Homo sapiens: one gene and its partners. The protein of the gene in region 2 purifies or fractionates together with the protein of the main gene of each other region. This does not show direct contact. Each region holds a gene or a part of one and is shown on either strand. Other genes may lie near its edges.

Region 1 (4,880 bases), on a different chromosome or scaffold from region 2:
CGTGAAAGTGTTAGACTCGGCTTACCAGCTGTGATATAACTGTCCCAGGGAGGGGCCTGGTTGGGTTAGAAGCTCTCCAGATGGTTCCCAGGGGCAGCCAGGGCTCAAAGCACCGAGTCACCCACAACCACGGCAAACCTCACCAGCTCTCTGTGGGGTTCTGCTACAGCTTCCCAGGAGTCGGCCCCCCAGCCGCCCCCACTCACCTCTTCCCTTGCTCTGCTGCACCTGCTGAGGCTCCCCTCAGACCCACCAGCATTCCCCACCTCCCGCCGACATCGCACTTGGGCCCGCTTGGCTCGGTCTCCGCCTCCTCCCTCTGCTCTATTTCCCTTCAGTATCATCAGCTCACGTGCTTACTCTTTTGCTGTCCACCTGTCCCCACCACTAGAATCAAAGCTCCATGTGAGTGAAGCCAGTCTTGCTATGCCTGGAATAGCACCCAGCATGATGAGCTCTCAATAAATATACACCCCGAGAATGAGCGAACCAACGACGGGATCTGGAAACGTCACCACGCCATCGTCACGTGAACACACAAACCATTGACCCGTGGCGTGTGATCCCACCTGCACTAAGTAAAAAGTGTGGGGCACAAAAGCAGGGCACATGGGGAGGAGGGCAGCAGGGCCGGGCACACACTGGGAGGAGGGGAGTTGAGTGTGGGGCCGGGCACATGCTGGCGGGGGGAGTGAGCGTGGGGCTGGGCACACGGGGCGGAAGGGAGTGGGGCTGGGCACACACTGGGAGGAGGGGAGTGAGTGTCAGGCCGGGCACATGCTGTGGGGGGAGTGAGTGTGGGGCCGGGCATGCACTGGGAAGAGGGGAGTGAGTGTGAAGCCGGGCACATGCTGGGAGGGGGAGTGAGTGTGGGGCCGGGCACGCGCTGGGAAGAGGGGAGTCAGTGGGCTTCCTGTGTTCTCGGTGCCTCCCATGGCCTGACGTGAAGGAGAGAACCTGAGCTGTCAGGATCAAGAGCGGGCACTGGCCTATGGACCACAGCCTGGAGGTCTCTCCTCACTCCCACCAGCCTGCCCGCTCCCAGACTGCTCAGAAAACTGACCTGTGGCCTGGGGCTGCTCACAAGTGTGTCTGGCCAGGTTGAGCCCCTGCCCAGTGACAGAGGTGAGTCCTCCCACCCAGGCCTGCTGATCTAAGGCCCTGAAGCAGCAAAGGCTCGGACAGCTGTTCCCAAGCCCAGGGACACCCCTGGACATCAGGAGTCGTCAGCTACAGGACTGAGCCCCCACCTTGGCATCCAACAAGTAATTGTACGGCATGAATATGATGTCGGCTTGCTGCTTCAGGTTCCGGGACAGGTAGTAAGGGCACACCCTGGGAAGGAGAGAGGAGAAGATCCTGTGAGCACCCCATGCAGGGGACGGTGCCCCGAGGCCGCCATGTCTTCTGACCCGGAAGGAGCCCTCATCCTGCACGTAGGGCCCAGGTGGGAAGCTGCTGCCTGGGATGGATGGGAGTCCACGTGAGTTTCTGACCAAGGGATGGGGAGTCCATGTGAGTTTCCGACCAAGGGATGGGGAGTCCTCGTGAGTTTCCGACCATGTAAATCGTCGTCTCTTTAAAAACTCGATGGAAAAGTAAAACCAACCCTATTCCTGGATAGAAACAAACACAACGCAGAACCACTAAGAAAAAGCAGAGCTGGGCCGGGCGCGGTGGCTCACTCCTGTAATCCCAGCACTTTGGGAGGCCGAGGTGGGCGGATCACAAGGTCAGAAGATCGAGACCATCCTGGCTAACACGGTGAAACCCCGTCTCTACTAAAAATACAGAAAATTAGCCAGACGTGGTGGCGGGCACCTGTAGTCCCAGCTACTCGGGAGGCTGAGGCAGGAGAATGGCGTGAACTCGGGAGGCGGAGCTTGCAGTGAGCCGAGATCGCACCACTGCACTCCAGCCTGGGCGACAGAGCGAGACTCCGTCTCAAAAAAAAAAAAAAAAAAAAAAAGAGCTGGCCAGGCATGGGGTCTCACGCCTGTAATCCCAGCACTTTGGGAGGCCAAGGCAGGTGGAACTCTCGAGCTCAGGAGACTGGCCTGAGCAACAGAGTGAGACCCTGTCTGTACAAAAAATACAAAAATTAACCAGGCATGGTGGTGTGTGCCTGCAGTCCCGGCTACTTGGGAGGCTGAGGTGGGAAAATCGCTTGAGCCTGGGAGGCTGAGGCTGCAGTGAGCCAAGACTGTGACACTGCACTGCAGCCTGGGTAGCAGAGCGAGACCCTGTTTCAAAAAAAAGGGGGAGGGAGGTTTCCCCCTCAATATAAGAAGAGCTTTATTATAACTTGAATCTCTGAAGCTGTAAGAGGTAGACATAGGAGACATCTGCTGTCCTCAAAAGAACAAGGCCGAGCTGCCAGCACCAGCATGGGAAGCTATACCCACAACGCTGAGTGAAAACAGCCAACTGCAGGACAGTCTGTGCAGACAAAACTGCGCGTGCTTCCGCACAGACACAGGCCTGCAGGGCTCCGTCCACACTCCACGGTGGCCACCGGGGATGGCTGAGGGCCAGGGAAGAGGGAGACAATTTTTTACTCTATCTTCCTCAGAGCTGCTTAAACTTTTTCGTACTGAATGGTGGTTAGTTTCATAATTTAAAAAGGAACAAAGAAAAGTGAAGAAATATATCCGGGCCTCCACAGGTCACAGGAGAGCTGGGCCATGGAAGGACAGTGGTCGTGGCCTCACTGAGGGGTCTCACCTGTGCTTGCTTCCGCTCTTGACCAAGTCCTCAATGTCCAGGATGGGGCTGGCCAGCTCCTGCTCCAGGCTTTTTTCTGCAGGTGTGAGGCAGGGGTAAACACACACCCTCAGGGTCCACTAAGTCCCAGACCACAGGGGGATGCCCAGGACAGAACGGCTCCTACACGGCGGGCAGGGCTGGGCGTCCCCCACCAACCGTGAACGCGCCACAAAGCACCCACTGAGGGTCTCAGGTGCCCAAGAGAGGCCCCCACCCGAGTGATCCTGAGGGAATCCTCCTCTGCCCCCAGAAGGCCTGAGGTTCAGGGTGGACCAGACGGAGGCCAGCAGGATCCCGAGGGTTCTACGCATCCTCTCCGAGACAGCCCAAGACAGGACAGGAGTGGCGGCTACACTCAGCCCTCCTCAGGGCAGGGAAGAACAGCCCCTCAGCCTATCGCCCCAACCCACAGAGGCATCTCCCACAAACCCCTGCAGGTGCCCCTGTGATTAGCACCGTCACTCAGCTTCCCTGCCAACCACAACAGGCCCAGAACTTCCAGCTAAGGGAGAGCCAGGTTTTCCTGGGCTAAACAGTGGCCCACTCCCCTCTGCAGCATGGCAGCCCTGGCAAAGGACACTGCCTGTACTGGCGGAGAGGCCCCGGGCAGAAAAGGCTTCAGAAGTCAGAGTCTGGGGGATGTCCTGCCCCTCCCTTGCCTCTACAGTACAGGCCCCCCAAACTGGAACCACAAGAATTCCTTAGGGAGTTGCTTAAACACAGACAGAACCAGATACCTCTTCTAACAAGCACCCCAGAGTCACAGGGCAGCCACGTGGGGCAATGGGGCCTCCCCCAGCTCCCGACTCCATCATGGCTGCTTTGTGCCTGTCCCCAGGAGGTGCCAGGCCCCCCGAGGGCCAGGACTCAGCTGCAGAGGCCAGAAGCGCACACATATGCACACGTGCACATACACACACACACACACTCACACACACCAGCGATGACCCAACCCCAGATACTCCCAGGGATAGCAGGGAAGGCAGGGGAGGAAAAGCACACCCCTGGGCAGCACCATAGCAACAGACCAGCCAATCAGCAGGCACTGCCGCACAGCGGCACTTGCCAAACCTTGCCTGGCGGAGAGCTGAGGGCGGGGCGAGGACAGGAGCTGCGAGGGGAAGGGGCACGAGGGGCGGGGCCGTCCCAGAGGCTCTGCCCCAGGCTGACCCCAAGCTTGCTGTCCCCAACCAGAGTCCTCACAGGACGCAGGCCAGGAAGGGTGCCAGCTCTCCAGCTGTCTCCTCATTCGCCCAAAATACCTGCCTCCCTTCCTCTCAGACCCCTCCAGGAGCTGCAGCCCACTCTGAAGATGCTCAGGCCGGTGCAGGTGCTGCAGACACCCCCTCACAGCCTGTCCGGTGGCAGACAGGGTGCGAAGGTTCACGGCTAGGCAACCTCCCGCCAGGTCGGGCAGTGAGAGCCCAAGCCAAGGGGGACAGGCAGGGGCTGGCCTGTGTCTTCCTGGTCTGAGTCCACAGGCCTGGAGGAGGAGACAGATGGGGGCCCCAATACCCAGAGGCCTAACACAGACGGAAGCAGCACCAGGAGGCAGTCAGAGGCCTCCCCACCAGGTCCCAGGCCCAGCATCCCCACCAGGTACCAGGCCCAGCGTCCCCACCAGGTCCCAGGCCCAGCAGCCACCGGGGCACTGCCCTTGTCCAGGACCACGGCCGGCCAGGCCCATGCTCAGCGTTCCATGCTATCCCAAGGACCCCCGCTGCATGGGACTGGGGACACCCAGCAGGCACTCCTGTCCTGGAAATCCAGGTGAGGACCTCGGAAATGACGCCTGCTTGAGAATTTCCATCAGCACATCTGCCCAACCCCCCGTCCCAGAGTCACGTCCTGCAGGCATCACCGGGACGAGCCGGCAGCTCCTGTCAGGGAACCTGGGGGCACAAAGGCAGAGCCCCTTCTTAGGACCAACAAAAAGGCCTGGACAACCACACATCAAGATGACTGAGGGTCCTTGGTGCCACCAGACCAAAAACCACAGCGAACAAGAAGCAACACAGAGGATGTCTCCAGCAACACAGCACATGCCTCCAGTAAGCGGGAGCCTCCCTGCAGGCCCATGTTCCGCCCACCCTGTCCCTCCAAGGGCCAGGGCC
Region 2 (5,343 bases):
GCTGGGCAAGGTGGTGTGAGCCTCTAATCCCAACTATTCAGGAGGCTGAGGCAGGAGAATCGTTTGAATTTGGGAGGTGGATGTTGCAGTGAGCCGAGATTGCACCACTGCACTCCAGCCTGGGTGACAGAGCAAGACTATGTCTCAAAAGGAAATAAATAAAAAATAAAAAAAATTAGTTGGGTGTAGTGGTGCATGCCTGGGGTCCCAGCTACTCGGGGTGGGGCTGAGGCAGGATCACCTGAGCCTGGGAGTTCGAGGCTGCAGCGAGCTATGATTGTGCCACTGAGCTCCAGCCTAGGCAACAGAGACCCTGTCTTAATGAAAAGGAAAAGACGGGCCTCTCTGTAGATGCCACGCACTGCTCAGGAGATTGTGAACTGGGAATTCCTCAACACCTAGGGCGGGCACTGTGTACCATTTTCTTTTTTTAATGTTTTAATTTGAGGTGAAATTCACATCCTGTACATTTCAACATCTTAAAGTGAACAGTTGAGAGGCGCCTGGTGCGGGGCCAGCAGCAGCTCTGTCCCATCTGCACGGTGTAGTTCTGACATTTCAGAGCTCCGTGCACCCCTGACCAAGCTCTAGTCATCCCACAGCCTGCATGGCTCCACTGATGAACCTGCTTATTAAACACGGTGGGTGCTGGAGGTAGACAGCACAGAGCTGCTGCCTGAGCAGGTCCCGGGGTGCACCTGTGCTGTGTGGGATGTGCTGAGAGTGGGCAGCCTGTCCTGGCTGGTGCCTGGCCCCAGGGTCCCCGGCTCATGGCCACCATCAGGGCACAAATGGTCCCTCCTGGAGCCCCAGGCCCCGGGCAGGCGGGCGGTGGTCCCTGGGCTGACCTGGAGGGTCTCCTGTTGGGGAAGGGAAGTCAGCTCTCCACGGGAGCAGCGCCAGCCCAGGAAGGAGGAGGGCGTCGGATGGAGAGGTCACCTGCAACCACGCATGGGGGCCCCGGCACTGTTGGACACAGGGTCCCCGGTCATTCCTCTGGCCACACTCCAACTCAGGGACAACGTGGATTCTCAAGCCACTGGCTGCTGTCACCCCCGTACCAGGTGGCCGAGGTGCCACCCCTCCTGCCAGCAGATCCCTCCATGCTGAGCCAGGCCTGCGTGGCTCTGGGAGAATGAGCAGTGTGGGAAGACCCTGACCCACCCCAGCCTGAGGAAATCCGAGGCACCTGCAGGTGCCTGAATGCCGGTGGCCGGAGACCACGGAAGACAGTGTCCACACGCAGGGCACCAGAGACCTCGCTCTAGCTGGAGCCTCACATCAAGAAAAGCCTTGAGCTCAGTGTTTCATTGGCCTCCTGGCTCCTCTGAATAAATATTCCTTTTGTCATCATCGTTCTGTTTAAATTGCCGCCCAACCACATCCCACGCCCAGAATCAGGCAAGACTCACTGCCAGGCTGAGAGGGGAGATCGTTTCTGCCGATGGACACAGTTGTCACCCAGAAGGACTTTGCAGCCAACCCTGGGGCAGCCCAACAACCCATGAGCACCCTGGTCACACACCACACACCCGAGCGTCCCAACAGCTGGGACAAAACCCCGGCACCAAGAACATCCAACCACAGGGAAATGCCTACGATGGGGCCTGAGGTCAAACGCGTCTCACGGTGTCCACTGGGTGCCGCCCGGGGTCTAGGTAAGCATGTGCAAGCGCGTGTGCACACTAAGGAGACAGGCCAGGCTGACCAGGAAGCCCTCTCTGGGGAGGCTCGCGGGAGATTTTACTTGTGAGCTTAAGCTGCCCTGCGCTTCCTGCTGTCCGATGTGAGCATCTATCACTTTCCTCAGAACAGAAAAAGTGACGTGGCAGCCACTGGTGGGGGAGAGAGGATGGGAGCTGTGAGCTCCAGGCTGTGCCCGTATCAGAGCATGCCCCGCACGAGCCCAGCGCCCACCTGCCCCCGTCCACCCCGTGGTGCCAGGATCAGGGTGACGTCGTGCCCAGCCGTGACCACTCACCTCTTGTTGACCTCGTCCAACTCTGCCCTCAGCTTCCCAATCTCTATCTGCAGCCGGGCACGCTCTCGAGCCGTCTCATCCAGGACTCTCCGGGCATCGGCCAGCTCCGACTCGTACAGCGCCTTGATGCCACTCACCTGGGGAGACCCAGGACAGGGTGAAGCGAGAGGGACCCTTCCCCTTGGACTACAGCAGTCAGGGGGCCCGGCCACTGGCCCTGCTCAGATTCCCAGGGACTGGCACGCAGAGAGAGAGGATGGCAGCCTGGGGACACTGGGACACCCTGTGTTGCCCATCTCACAGACACAGCAAAGGGAGCCCCCTGTCGGGGAGGGTCCGGTAACCAGGAGGAAGCCAGGCGACCCTGGGTCCCAGCCATCCCAGGAGCCTCCTCCTCTGCTGCGGCCCCCTCTGGAATGATCGTCTCTCCACGAGCTCCAGCTCCCAGAACAGCGGCGCCCAGTGCTGGAGACCAAAGGCCCTGGGCCTGGACCAGCACAGCAGCTGGATGGAGCCTGTCCCCTTCCCCGGAGGACCAGCCACACCTGGACATGCAGCCCCTTGGCCGCTGTCATAGCGACACGATGCCTGGCCATTAGATGCATTTTTCACACTCTCGGTTTCAGAACCAGAAAACTGGTGGGATGTTTAATCAAGGATCTCTCCCGCTGGGCACCATGGACACTGGGCTGATCACTCTCGGACAACTGGTGATGACAGCAACCCGGGGCCCTCCCAGACCCCACTGGGCCTGAGAGCCCCCTGCCCCCACCAGCCTTTGCAACCTGGAGTCCCCTCCCAGACCCCTCTGGGCCCCTGAGACTCCCCCCAGGCCTCTGCAACCTGGAGCCCCCGCTCCCCCAGACCCCGCTGAGCCCAAGATCCCCCACTTCTGCCAACCGGGGGCCAGCCCGTGCCCCTCTGTGCCCCTACCTCACACGCAGGCACATGGCCCAGGCTCAGGCTGGGCTGTTCCCTGGGATGGAGGGAGGAGCATCTGGCCTTCCCATGCTGTGTCCCCCCGACAGGCCAGCTGCCAATGTGGTGGCTCGGAGGCTCCAGGACAGAAGCTCCCACCCCTCAATCACAGAGATCTGCAGTCAGAGTCCCCAGCTCCCCACCCCACCAGCGGCCCCCACCTTTCACCCCTCGATCACAGGGATCTGTAGTCAGAGTCCCCAACTCCCCACCCCACCAGCGGCCCCCACCTTTCACCCCTCGATCACAGGGATCTGCAGTCAGAGTCCCCAGCTCCCTACCCCACCAGCGGCCCCCACCTTTCACCCCTCGATCACAGGGATCTGCAGTCAGAGTCCCCAGCTCCCCACCCCACCAGCGGCCCCCACGTTTCACCCCTCGATCACAGGGATCTGCAGTCAGAGTCCCCAGCTCCCCACCCCACCAGCGGCCCCCACCTTTCACCCCTCGATCACAGCGATCTGTAGTCAGAGTCCCCAACTCCCCACCCCACCAGCCGCCCCCACCTTTCACCCCTCGATCACAGGGATCTGTAGTCAGTCCCCAGCTGCCCCCCCCAACCAGCCGCCCCCACCTTTCACCCGTCGATCACAGGGATCTGTAGTCAGAGTCCCCAACTCCCCACCCCACCAGCTGCCCCCACCTTTCACCCCTCAATCACAGGGATCTGTAGTCAGAGTCCCCAACTCCCCACCCCACCAGCCGCCCCCACCTTTCACCCCTCGATCACAGGGATCTGTAGTCAGTCCCCAGCTGCCCCCCCCACCAGTCACCCCCACCTTTCACCCCTCGATCACAGGGATCTGTAGTCAGAGTCTCCAGCTCCCCACCCCACCAGCGGCCCCCACCTTTCCCGACGGAGACCCAGCCCAGCCAGCAAGGACATGGGGAGGGGCTGGAGAGCCAGGGGTCACCAGGGCAGGCAGAAGCGACTGGAACACCCTCTGGGCCGCCCAGCTAAAGAAAGCCCCTCCCTAAGCCCCGCGCAAAGCCCCCAAACCCGCCCCTCTCGAGGGCCTCCAGGTGAACTCGAGGCACATGCGGTGCCAGGGAAGGCGACCTCTTCACTTCCTACTAATCCTGCTGCAACCACAGCCGCCACCTGCCCGGCCTCTGCACGCGCCAGCTGGGGGCACAGCTCAGGCTTCTAGTGGCCTTCCTGCCTCCCCTCCTCCCACAGGGCCATGCACTCAGTGAGTTTAAAAATATGTGGAAGCAAACCGCAGTGAGATGCCACTTCGCACCAGCCAGGGCGTCCGTCAAGAAGACAGACAGTCGCAGGTGCGGGCGAGTACGCAGAGAAATCGGAACCTCACAGGCAGCGGCAGGAACCTGAGCTGAGACAGCTCTACAGAAAACAGTCCAGGGGCTCCCCCAAGAGTCACAGAGCCACCCTGTGACCCGGTAACTCCACTCCTGGGTGTGGACCCAGAAGACATGAAATTCACATCCATGCATGTTTGAAAACTACACATGGTGCCGGGCGCAGTGGCTCACACCTGTAATCCCAGCACTTTGGGAAGCCGAGGCGGGCGGATCACAAGGTCAGGAGATCGAGACCATCCTGGCTAACACAGTGAAACCCCGTCTCTACTAAAAAAACATACAAAAAATTAGCCAGGCGTGGTGGTGGGCGCCTGTGGTCCCAGCTACTTGGGAGGCTGAGGCAGGAGAATGGCATGAACCCGGGAGGTGGAACTTGCAGTGAGCCGAGATCGCACCACTGCCCTCCAGCCTGGGAGACAGAGCGAGACTCAGTTTCAAAATAAATAAATAAATAAATAAAATGAAAAATAAAAATAAATAAAAAAATAAAAGCAATGCGGTCCCTCCACCATCCACACACAGGAACATGACCCAGCTGTGTAACGGAGCAAGGTTCTGACACCACAGTGTGGATGCCCCTTGAGGATGTCACACTCATGAGACGCCAGACACAAAACGCCACACAGTGTGTAATCCCATTTCCATGAAATGTCCAGGTCAGGCCAGTGCACAGACACAGGCAGCGGGTGTGTGGGCAGCGGGGCTGGAGAAGGGGACGGGGAGTGACCGCTGAGGGGGACAGGCTTCTTTTAGTGGGGATGAACGTTCTAAAATTGGACACATTGGTGGTGGCACAGCTGTGGAGATATGAAAACGCGAAACCTACGGGTGAGCTGGGTGAACCTTATGAGGCGGGAATTAACTGCTCCGGCTCTGGCGCTGAGGAAAAGGAGGACCGGAGGATGGTAGGCGGAACCAGGCCCAGCACCACCCGCTAGAACGCCGTGATGTTCCCACAGCCCTACAGGGCCAAGGGTGTCTATGCAAGGTGGGTACAGGGTCGGCCTGCATCTGGAGGGCCACACCCCCATGTTACAGGCGAGGCTCCTGTGCAGAGG
Region 3 (5,492 bases), on a different chromosome or scaffold from region 2:
ACGGGAACATCTCTGCTTTTGTCCAACTGAAGGTCTTCTGGGTCTGGTTTAATTATCTTAGCCACACAACTTTTGCCATCATCATTAGCATTCCTCTTGATTTTTAGAGATCTTGGAACAAACATCCTTCAATATTCTGTTAAGGAAATTATATAATGAGATTTATTGTACCATTAATAAAGTTCACATATAAAGTACCATATGATTAAGGACAAGGTGCGGTGGCTCACCCCTGTAATCCCAGCACTTTGGGAGGCCGAGGCAGGCAGATCACTTGAGGTCAGGAGTTTGAGACCAGCCTGGCCAACATGCTGAAACCCCATCTCTCCAAAAAATACAAAAATTAACTGGGCATGGTGGCATGTGCCTGTAATCCCACCTATTCGGGAGGCTGAGGCAGGAGAATCACTTGATCCCGGGGGGCAGAGATTGCAGTGAGCCGAGATCGTGCCACTGCCCTCCAGCCTGGGTGACAGTGAGATTCTGTCTCAAAAAAATTTTTAAAAAGGCCAGGCGTGGTGGCTCACACCTGTAATCCCAGCACTTTGGGAGGCCGAGGCGGGCAGATCACGAGGTCAGGAGTTTGAGACCAGCCTGGCCAATATGGTGAAACCCCCGTCTCTACTAATACAAAAATTAGCTGGGCATGGTGGCGCACACCTGTATTCCCAGCTACTCGGGAGGCTGAGGGAGAAGAATCTCTTGAACCCAGGAGGCGGAGGTTGCGGTGAGCCTAAGACCTCACCATTGCACTCCAACCTGGGCAACACAGTGAGTGTCCTGGGGTTATGCCTGAAAGGAATAGTGAGGACATCATGACACTCTTTATATCAAGCTTTTCTTCCATTCGCCAGCTTCCACTGATGAAGAGATGGAGTCCTCTTCCTCACACATAGCAGTGTTGTAACACTGCACACTGCTCAACATAGCCTTGTACACATGGTCTATTTCCGTTTACTGATTATTTGCACTTTGAAGTATCAGATATTATAGAAATTCTGGGGTAAATCCTTCTATTATAGCATCAAAAAAGAAAACAGGAGAAATACTTCACAATTAGAATCTTTAAAATCAAAGCCACAAATCATAGAGAAAATGCTATTTTCATAAGTAACACTTAGTGTTTATTATATGCCAAGCACAGTGCTTCACCTAATCTTCACAACCATGTAAAGCAGTTAGCATTGCCTAATATATATATATACAGATATTTTTTCATTATGCTATACTAGGTATATTACATAGAGTAATATACACAAGACTAATATACATAGTATAGCATAATGAAAAAATAATATAGTAATATACATAACATAGCATAATGAAAAAACGTGTGTGTGTGTATAAAACACATTATATACACTCAGAAGAAACTGAGCCACTTAGAAATTAAGTGGTTTGGGCTGGGCGCAGTGGCTCACGCCTGTAATCCTAGCACTTTGGGAGGCCGAGGCGGGCGGATCACGAGGTCAGGAGATCAAGACCATCCTGGCTAACACGGTGAAACCCCGTCTCTATTAAAACAAAACAAAACAAAAAAAATTAGCCGGGCGTTGGCGGCAGGCGCCTGTAGTCCCAGCTACTCGGGAGGCTGAGGCAGGAGAATGGCGTGAACCCGGGAAGCGGAGCTTGCAGTGAGCCCAGATCGCGCCACTGCACTCCAGCCTGGGCAACAGAGCAAGACTCCGTCTCAAAAAAAAAAAAAAAGAAAAGAAATTAAGTGGTTTGTCCAAGCTCACACAATTCTTAAGTGTTACAACCCTGGCACTGTGGATCCAGAGCACAAGCTCTCAACCATACGAGGACTAAGCTCTAATTTTTTATCTTACCCAAATTCCTTTCTAAGGGGTCTGGAGAGTCATGCCCTACAAACCATAAATTCTCATCAGATGGGTTTTATTTAACCCTGTATATCGTGACTTACTTTCCAATCTGACTCTGGCCTAACAAGGAAGAAAATAAAAATGTTTTACCCCAAAATATATTTCCTTGTCGTACCTTAAAACTCCCCTGCAAAGTCTCTTGCAGGAAAAATCTGCATTTGGTGAGAATTCCCATCTCCCCTTGTTTTCCCTCCTTCCTTCCCAGATCCAGGAGATAATCAACTAAGAGCCAGGCACCCTTTTAAGTCCAATATAAAACAATTTACAACCTGCTCTCTCTAAAGTCTATCTAAGAGCTTCCTCTGCACAATAAAACTTGGTCTCCACAATCCTTTATCTCTAGCCTGAACATTCCTTTTTATGGATCCCAGGTCTTTAGATAACCTCAACCAGATAACGTTTACATTTACCGATTGAGTTGCCCCGCCTTTCTAAACTAAACCAATGTATTTCTTAAATGTATTTGATGTCTCACGCCTTCCTAAAATAGATAAAACCAAGCTGTACCCCAATTTCCTTGGGCACATGTTCTCAGGACCTCCTGAGGACTGTCACTGGCCATGGTCACTTGAATCTGGCTCAAAATAAATCTCTTCAAATATTTTTCAGAGTTTGATTCTTTTCATCAACCCATATCTATACCTTTTTACACCAAAAACATGTCTTTGCAAAATTACAGTTATTGGGAATAAGGCTTTTAACCTAATCTGGGGACTATCAAATATACTAATAAATATTTTTCTTAAAAAAATTCTTTGTTTAAACTGCCAGATTCCAACTTCCAGAAAAATTCCAACAGAAATGCAACCGAGGGTCTAGAATTACTATCCTAAATCTCCGAAAATGTACAGGGGGTGGCGGGCGGGGCAGGGACGGCTCTAGGTGAGCAGGAAAAAGCTTGGAACTCAGTCTTCCAATGGCGAAAGGGAACGTGCTCCTGCTGGGCGGGACGGCGGACGGCTGGCGGCGGCGCGGCCTCCAATTCTCGCCAACGCGCCCCGCACCCCCGTGCACTGGCGGGCCCTCCCCTCGGGCGTTGCCTCCCACCCACGCCCGGCGGCACCGCACCCCGAGGCGCTTCACGTCACGGAGCTGCTAGGAGACGGGCGGGGCTCCGGTTCCGGGTAGAGGCCTGGGACACGGGGAACTGTAAGGATGGGAGGAAGGCCGCGCAGGGGCACCAGTTCTGCCGCCGCGGCCTAGCGCCCCAGGTCCCGGAGAAGGGGCACCAGGGCGGCCAGGGGCCCAAGCTTCCGGGGCACGCTCACCCGCGCAGGACTGAGGCCGCGTCCGCTCCCGCTCCCGCTCGGGCCGTCTCCCCCTTCCAGGCTCCAGGCCAGGCTTCCGCCCGACAAGCCCTGACCCGCTCGTCAGGACTGCGGCCCGGGGTTGGTGGTGCGGAGCGGAGCGGAGCGGAGCGTAGAGTAGAATCCACTTCCCCGGGTTTTGGGAGGGGGCCGCAGCCCGCTTTCCGGGCGGCGGGGAGGCGGGGCCACCGCGGGGGCGGAGCTCGGCTGGGAGCCGGCAGTGGCTTGGGAGGGAGGGAGGGAGAAGGAGAGGGGCGGGAAGGCTCCTCGCGTTTTCCACGCCCCCGCCCAGCTCTGGGCTGGTGGTAAATCTCGGAACTGGTCCGGGCTGGGCGAGTTCTGGACGGAGGGGCACGTTTGGGAATCCTCTTGGAAGAATTTACGTAATCGAATGGGCTGGGACTGGTGGAAAAGAGTTGGACCGTCCGGAAAGAAGCAGGAGGGCGGCGCGGGGGCCTGGCACCCTTAGAAAGTGGGAAGTGTGAGTGTAAAAGGGAGGGGCACTTCTGCCCGTTGGGCCCAAAAACCCTTTTCTGGCTTTAGCTAGTAGAGCCACTCAAAATTTAAACGGAGTCAGCTTGATGTGGCATATATGATAAGCTGGATAATATTTCCTGCACCACCGCACCCCTCCCCCCACCCCAACACCAACAAGAAAATAACACAAGTCACGGTTCTTGTTCCTTGTGGGCTGACATTTCCCTGTTTTGCCAACCTCTGGAGCCACGTGTCCCAAGCAGCTTGTAGTTGAGAAGTGATGGGGGAGAGGAGACAGCACGGGAGAGGAAGGAGGGAAGCCAGCTTATATTCAGGTGCCTTAAGTATTTAAAAATATTTTCAGTGTAATAGTCGATGCATTCAAAAGAGCATATTTACCAAATATGTAAAATTTAAAGTATGCTAATGAAACTATCACTCCACCACGTTATCAGTATTTAGCATGTATCTATGCATCTCCAGGATTCTACTCCTGGCCTCTTAGCTCACCACCACTATCTTCAGTTTTGTCCCTCTTTGCCATTTTTAGTGGTTTTATCATATTTGGATGCATTCCTGTGTATTGGTGTATTTTTCTTCTTTTTGAGCTTTATAAAAATACATATAGCCTGGAATTCGCTTTTTATCACTCAACATTTGTTTTTTTGGTTCATCCAAGTTGTTACGTGTAGTAACAGAACATTTATTTCTTACTGCCTAGTCAAAAGGAAGTTTTCTCCTGTCAGGAATGTATTCAATACTGTAGCGGATAGGATTATAAATGCACTTTAAGTATTTTCTTTATTGATGGGAACCACACAGACTAAATGTATCAGACTTCCCAAGTTCGTAGGTCACATACCTATAACAGAACTCTTTTCCTGGGTTTTGTGACATTTCTAATTGTTGTAATTTCTTTTGCCATTATAAAAATTAGTCACTTTTGAACCTAATTTGTATTCATCATTCTGAATCTTTTTCTTTAAAAGCCTCCTCTTTTCCAATTATATAAGCTCATACCCCATAAAACCTGAATCTGCCCCTAGTAATTACTAATAAGGCTAGTAGGAGCATTCTTGTTCACCTTCTGTGCATGCGCTGGACTCTAATTTGAACCTAGGATTAGCACTGCGGCATCAGAGGCTATGGGGGCTGTTCAGCTTTCAAAGATAAAGCAGAAATGTTTTCAAAGTGGTTGTACCAATCTATACTGCCACCAGTACCGACCACAATTCTCTCTAAATCCTCGTTATTTTCACACTTCTTACTTTTTGCTAGTCTACCCAGAATAAATACCATGTTTTTGTCTTAATTTGCATTCCGTAATTACTGATAAGGCTGAGCACTTTGAAATATGTTATTCATTCATGTTTTCTCTTCCTCTTCTAAGGATGTGTGTGTGTGTACATATATAAATGTATATATAATGTATATATGTATATATAATGAAACATTCTTTTGTTAATTGTAGGTGTTGCAGATATCTTCTCCCTGTTTATAGTGTGTTTTCAAATAAAAAAATTTTTTGACTTATTTTGAAAAAATCAACCTTATCAAAAAGTTTCAGAATTAATGAACTCCTGTATACCCTTCACATAAGTTCACAGTTTGCTATATTTGCTATATTAGTGTGTAGGAGAGATTATATATATAAAATATGTATACTATAGATATATATTTTTTTCTGAACCATTTAGGAGTAAGTTGTAGCATGTGTCTCCAAAGACAATGATATTCTCTTTTATACTCACAGAAAAATGTTCCAGTTGAGGTTGTTTGTTTTTTGAGACAAGGTCTCACTCTGTTACCCAGGCTGGAGTGCAGT
Region 4 (3,998 bases), on a different chromosome or scaffold from region 2:
CTCCAGACGTGATACCATGACACTATTACTTATGCAGTATTCCAGTTAAAAATGCATAACCATGAAGAAACATTGGAGAAACCCAAATTGAGAACATTCTATAAAATAACTAGCTTATATTATTTTAAAATGTTAATGTTGTGAAAGACAAGGACTGAGGACTTTTTCCAGATTAAGAGACTAAATACAATACGTGATCCTAGACTAAATCTTGAACTACAGAAAAATGCCATAAAGGACATTACTGAAACAACAGATATAATTTGAGTGTGAGGTGTAGATTCAGAATATATGCTTAATATTTACTAAACTAGAAGAGCTCTCATTCCAAGAATCCACACACTCCCACCACATCTGAGGATATGCCCTTATACAATACACCTGAGAAGAGAAACTGACAGAACTAAATGATTAATATGTGCTAATAACAGTGTCTAGAGCACTAAAGATAAAAATGAACAAATTAGGCCAGGCGCGGTGACTCACGCCTGTAATCCCAGCACTCTGGGAGGCAGAGGCGGGCGCATCATGAGGTCAGGAGATCAAGACCATCCTGGCTAACACGGTGAAACCCCGTCTCTACTAAAAAATACAAAAAATTAGCCAGGCATAGTGGTGGATGCCTGTAGTCCCAGCTACTCGGGAGGCTGAGGCAGGAGAATGGCGTGAACCTGGGAGGCGGAGCTTGCAGTGAGCCAAGATCATGCCACCGTACTCCAGCCTGGGCGACAAAGTGAGACTCCGTCTCAAAAAAAAAAAAAAAAAAATTAACAAATTAAAACACTGGAAAGGTTTAGAGAAACCATCATCACTCACCTTACTTTAGGGACAAATACATGAATTTGGGTCCTTGTGATTTTTGATAAAGATTTCAAGTTTCTATTATTGAACATAAAACTAGATTCCAAAGGAAATAACTAGAAGAGTTACCGATAAAAAATTTAGATTCTTAATTTTTACACAAAATATCTAAAAACACACATTATACTGTCTTTTGAATTTTAATGACACTAATAGCTTTATTTAACAAACACTGAGTGACTACTATGTGCAAAGCACTATGCTAGGTGCATGAAAGATACAAAGATGAAAAAAGACACAGTCCCTGCCCACAAGGAGCGTATAATCTAGTGAGGGAGACAAATACACAAATAACTAGAATACAAGGCAGTAAACAAGAGTGGGCAAGTGCTGAGTGTGGCCTGAGTGTGATACTAACTAGCCTCAAGGTTCCAATTTGAAACACGATGAAATAGTGTTGTCTGCTTCGAAAATCCCATCCCAAGTTTGGCATAATGGAAGTTAAATGGCCCTACCCAAACAGGTGGAAATAACAGAGTAGGCCAGGTGGAGGCGCTGTTTGAAAGTACTATCACACCTACATACATGGTGCTGATATAAGTACGTAGGTACAGCTAAAAAAGAACTTATATATATATATATATCATATATATATATATCATCTGTCCTTTGGTTAATGGCTATAGCTACTGTTTTAAACAATATACTTTTATATAAAAAGGAATTTGTATAATCCCAGAAAAATCAATTTAAGGATTAATATTAATTCAAGAAAGAATCCTGCCATAGGCAATTTTATTTACTAATTGATTAAGTCTTTTCTCTAAATATCTATAAAGCTCTGTAGCAATTAAACAGTTAGACATCTAAGTATTGCTGAGTAGAAACCTCTTATGTTCAGCCTTCTGAAATAAATGGTCACATACCTGATATATAGCACTATTCTAACAGCAACAAGAAGGCCTTAAAGAGATTTTAAGAAAAATAATTTTTAATGCTTCAATGCAAATGGAGTACACGCTGATTAAATACAACTCAATGTTCTTTGAAAACATCTCAATGACAGCGTTTGATACCAGTTAAGGCCAGCAAAATTGTACTGAGGAAAATATTATTACATGTACTGTCTTTCATTGGTTTCATGTATCATTGCTTATGACTATGGCAACCAAATCTTTTCTTTGACAACTGCATTTATGGGAACTGATGAGCTTTGATTTATGAGCTTTGATTTGCTTTTAGTTCATAGGCCAATAACAAGTGCTGACCACCTCCTCTTGGTAGTGCTGTCTGAAATAACTGGCAAAGTAGAAGCACATTTCCTGGCTCCTTTTCCCACTTCCTGAATTGGAGGGTTCACCACCTTAGCCTGTTTCCTTTCGTGTGTCACTGTGGTCCTGGGTCCTCTGCTGCTTTCTCTCAAGGAAACGAGCCCGTGCATCAGATATGGATTTGTCATCATTTCTTCTTTGCATTTTCTTTAAGACGTCTTTCGATATTCCATCTGAAAACATTACAAATTAATCCAATAAAACTTAGCTTTGAGATTCAGTACTAGAAATGTTAAGAGAAAGAGAAGCCCTGATTTTTCAGTGTTAACAAAGTAAAAACAATAAAGAGAAAAATTAAATTTTGCCCTTTCAAAAGCAATGTAGTCTATGGTTACAAAATTAAGAGCACCAAGGCCAATGAGTCAGAAAAACTGACCCTAATTCAAGCATGTGGCAGTGTTATTACACTGTAATAGAACACCTAGTGGCTAAGATTTCTTTTCTTTTTTTTTTTTTTTTTGAGACGGAGTCTCACTCTGTCGCCCAGGCTGGAGTGCAGTGGCGCAATCTCGGCTCACTGCAAGCTCTGCCTCCTGGGTTCACGCCATTCTCCTGCCTCAGCCTCCCGAGTAGCTGGGACTACAGGCGCCCGCCACCACACCCAGCTAGTTTTTTGTATATTTAGTAGAGACGGGGTTTCACCGTGTTAGCCAGGATGGTCTCGATCTCCTGACCTCGTGATCCGCCCGCCTTGGTCTCCCAAAGTGCTGGGATTACAGGCGTGAGCCACCATGCCTGGCCTCCCTAGTGGCTAACATTTCTAAAGATTTTTCTATGATTTATTCGGCAAAACTCTTCACCATTCCATTTTGCAGTGATGTCAAATAAAGAAAATACAATATGCTTCATCATTCAGCCTCAAAAAGCTTTACTAAGAAGTTTTCTGTGTATGTGAGCTGAAAAACTTTCTGTCCTATTTCAGTACCACAACTATTTATGCCTCCCAACCAGGGTCCTAATTATTTCATAGAAAAAGCCCCTTGGATATACAAACTTAGCCAGGCGTGGTGGTGCATGCCTGTAATCCAGCTACTCAGGAGGCTGAGGCAGGAGAATAGCTTGAACCGGGAGGCAGAGGCTGCAGTGAGCCAAAATCACACCATTACACTCCAGCCTGGGCAATAAGAGCAAAACTCCGTCTCAAAGAAGAAAGAAAAAGAAAGAAAGAAAGAAAAAGCCCCTTGGAAACAAAGGGGATTCTGAGTTAATAATGCATAAATCATCACTTTTTTTTTTTTAGAGATAGTGTCTCACTCTGTCACCCCCAGGCTGGAGTGCACTGGTGAAATCACAGTTCACTGCAGCCTCAAACTCCTGGGTTCAAGCGATCCTCCTGCATCAGCCTCCCAAGTCACTGGGACTACAGGTGCACACCAACATGCCTGGCTAATTTTTATTTTTATTTTGCTAGAGATGGGATCTCACCACATTGCCCAGGTGGGTCACAACATTTTTATAAACAAAAATAGTGAAGTACTACTGGGAAGCAGTATGGCATAGTGGTTAAGAGTAGAACAAATGATTTACTCACCCTTTAGCTGCTTTACATTTTCCTTATTTGTCCATCTCCTTCTTGCATCTTCTCTCACTTCACGTCGGGCCACACTGCTCAAATCATGTGCATTAAATTCATGCAACTTGGGTAACAAGTCTCTTACCCATTCATAACGGATTGGGCATACAATTCTTGCGTAGACTTTGGTGGTAACCAATACCTCATGAAAAATGATCCATTCAAGTTTGGTTTCCTGTTCATGAAGCTATACAAAACATTTCTTTTAATGATGGTAACTCAATAACCTGCCCTATTCCACATTAAACCAACCAAATAGTCCAAATCCTTCTCAATTAATTCCTATCTTCTTC

What was found. The genes of interacting proteins can lie anywhere in the genome.
Region 1: the proteins of LMNB2 (region 2) and RTEL1 purify together in Homo sapiens (affinity purification with mass spectrometry; one large-scale study listed by BioGRID and IntAct). This does not show direct contact.
Region 3: the proteins of LMNB2 (region 2) and DDX59 purify together in Homo sapiens (affinity purification with mass spectrometry; one large-scale study listed by BioGRID and IntAct). This does not show direct contact.
Region 4: the proteins of LMNB2 (region 2) and DHX40 purify together in Homo sapiens (affinity purification with mass spectrometry; one large-scale study listed by BioGRID and IntAct). This does not show direct contact.

What each region holds. Positions count from the first base shown.
Region 1 is NC_000020.11:63,663,924-63,668,803, reverse strand, and holds part of RTEL1 (regulator of telomere elongation helicase 1), read right to left. Parts: intron 2,801-4,880; coding exon 2,725-2,800; intron 1,336-2,724; coding exon 1,251-1,335; intron 1-1,250. UniProt on the Homo sapiens protein: A probable ATP-dependent DNA helicase implicated in telomere-length regulation, DNA repair and the maintenance of genomic stability. Acts as an anti-recombinase to counteract toxic recombination and limit crossover during meiosis.
Region 2 is NC_000019.10:2,442,423-2,447,765, forward strand, and holds part of LMNB2 (lamin-B2), read right to left. Parts: intron 2,119-5,343; coding exon 1,982-2,118; intron 1-1,981. UniProt on the Homo sapiens protein: Lamins are intermediate filament proteins that assemble into a filamentous meshwork, and which constitute the major components of the nuclear lamina, a fibrous layer on the nucleoplasmic side of the inner nuclear membrane.
Region 3 is NC_000001.11:200,666,616-200,672,107, forward strand, and holds the start of DDX59 (probable ATP-dependent RNA helicase DDX59), read right to left. Parts: upstream 3,293-5,492; 5' UTR 3,152-3,292; exon of another isoform or gene 1,999-3,151; intron 1,151-1,998; exon of another isoform or gene 746-1,150; intron 326-745; exon of another isoform or gene 231-325; intron 137-230; 5' UTR 126-136; coding exon 1-125.
Region 4 is NC_000017.11:59,605,340-59,609,337, reverse strand, and holds the end of DHX40 (probable ATP-dependent RNA helicase DHX40), read right to left. Parts: intron 3,893-3,998; coding exon 3,664-3,892; intron 2,306-3,663; coding exon 2,166-2,305; 3' UTR 993-2,165; downstream 1-992. UniProt on the Homo sapiens protein: Probable ATP-dependent RNA helicase.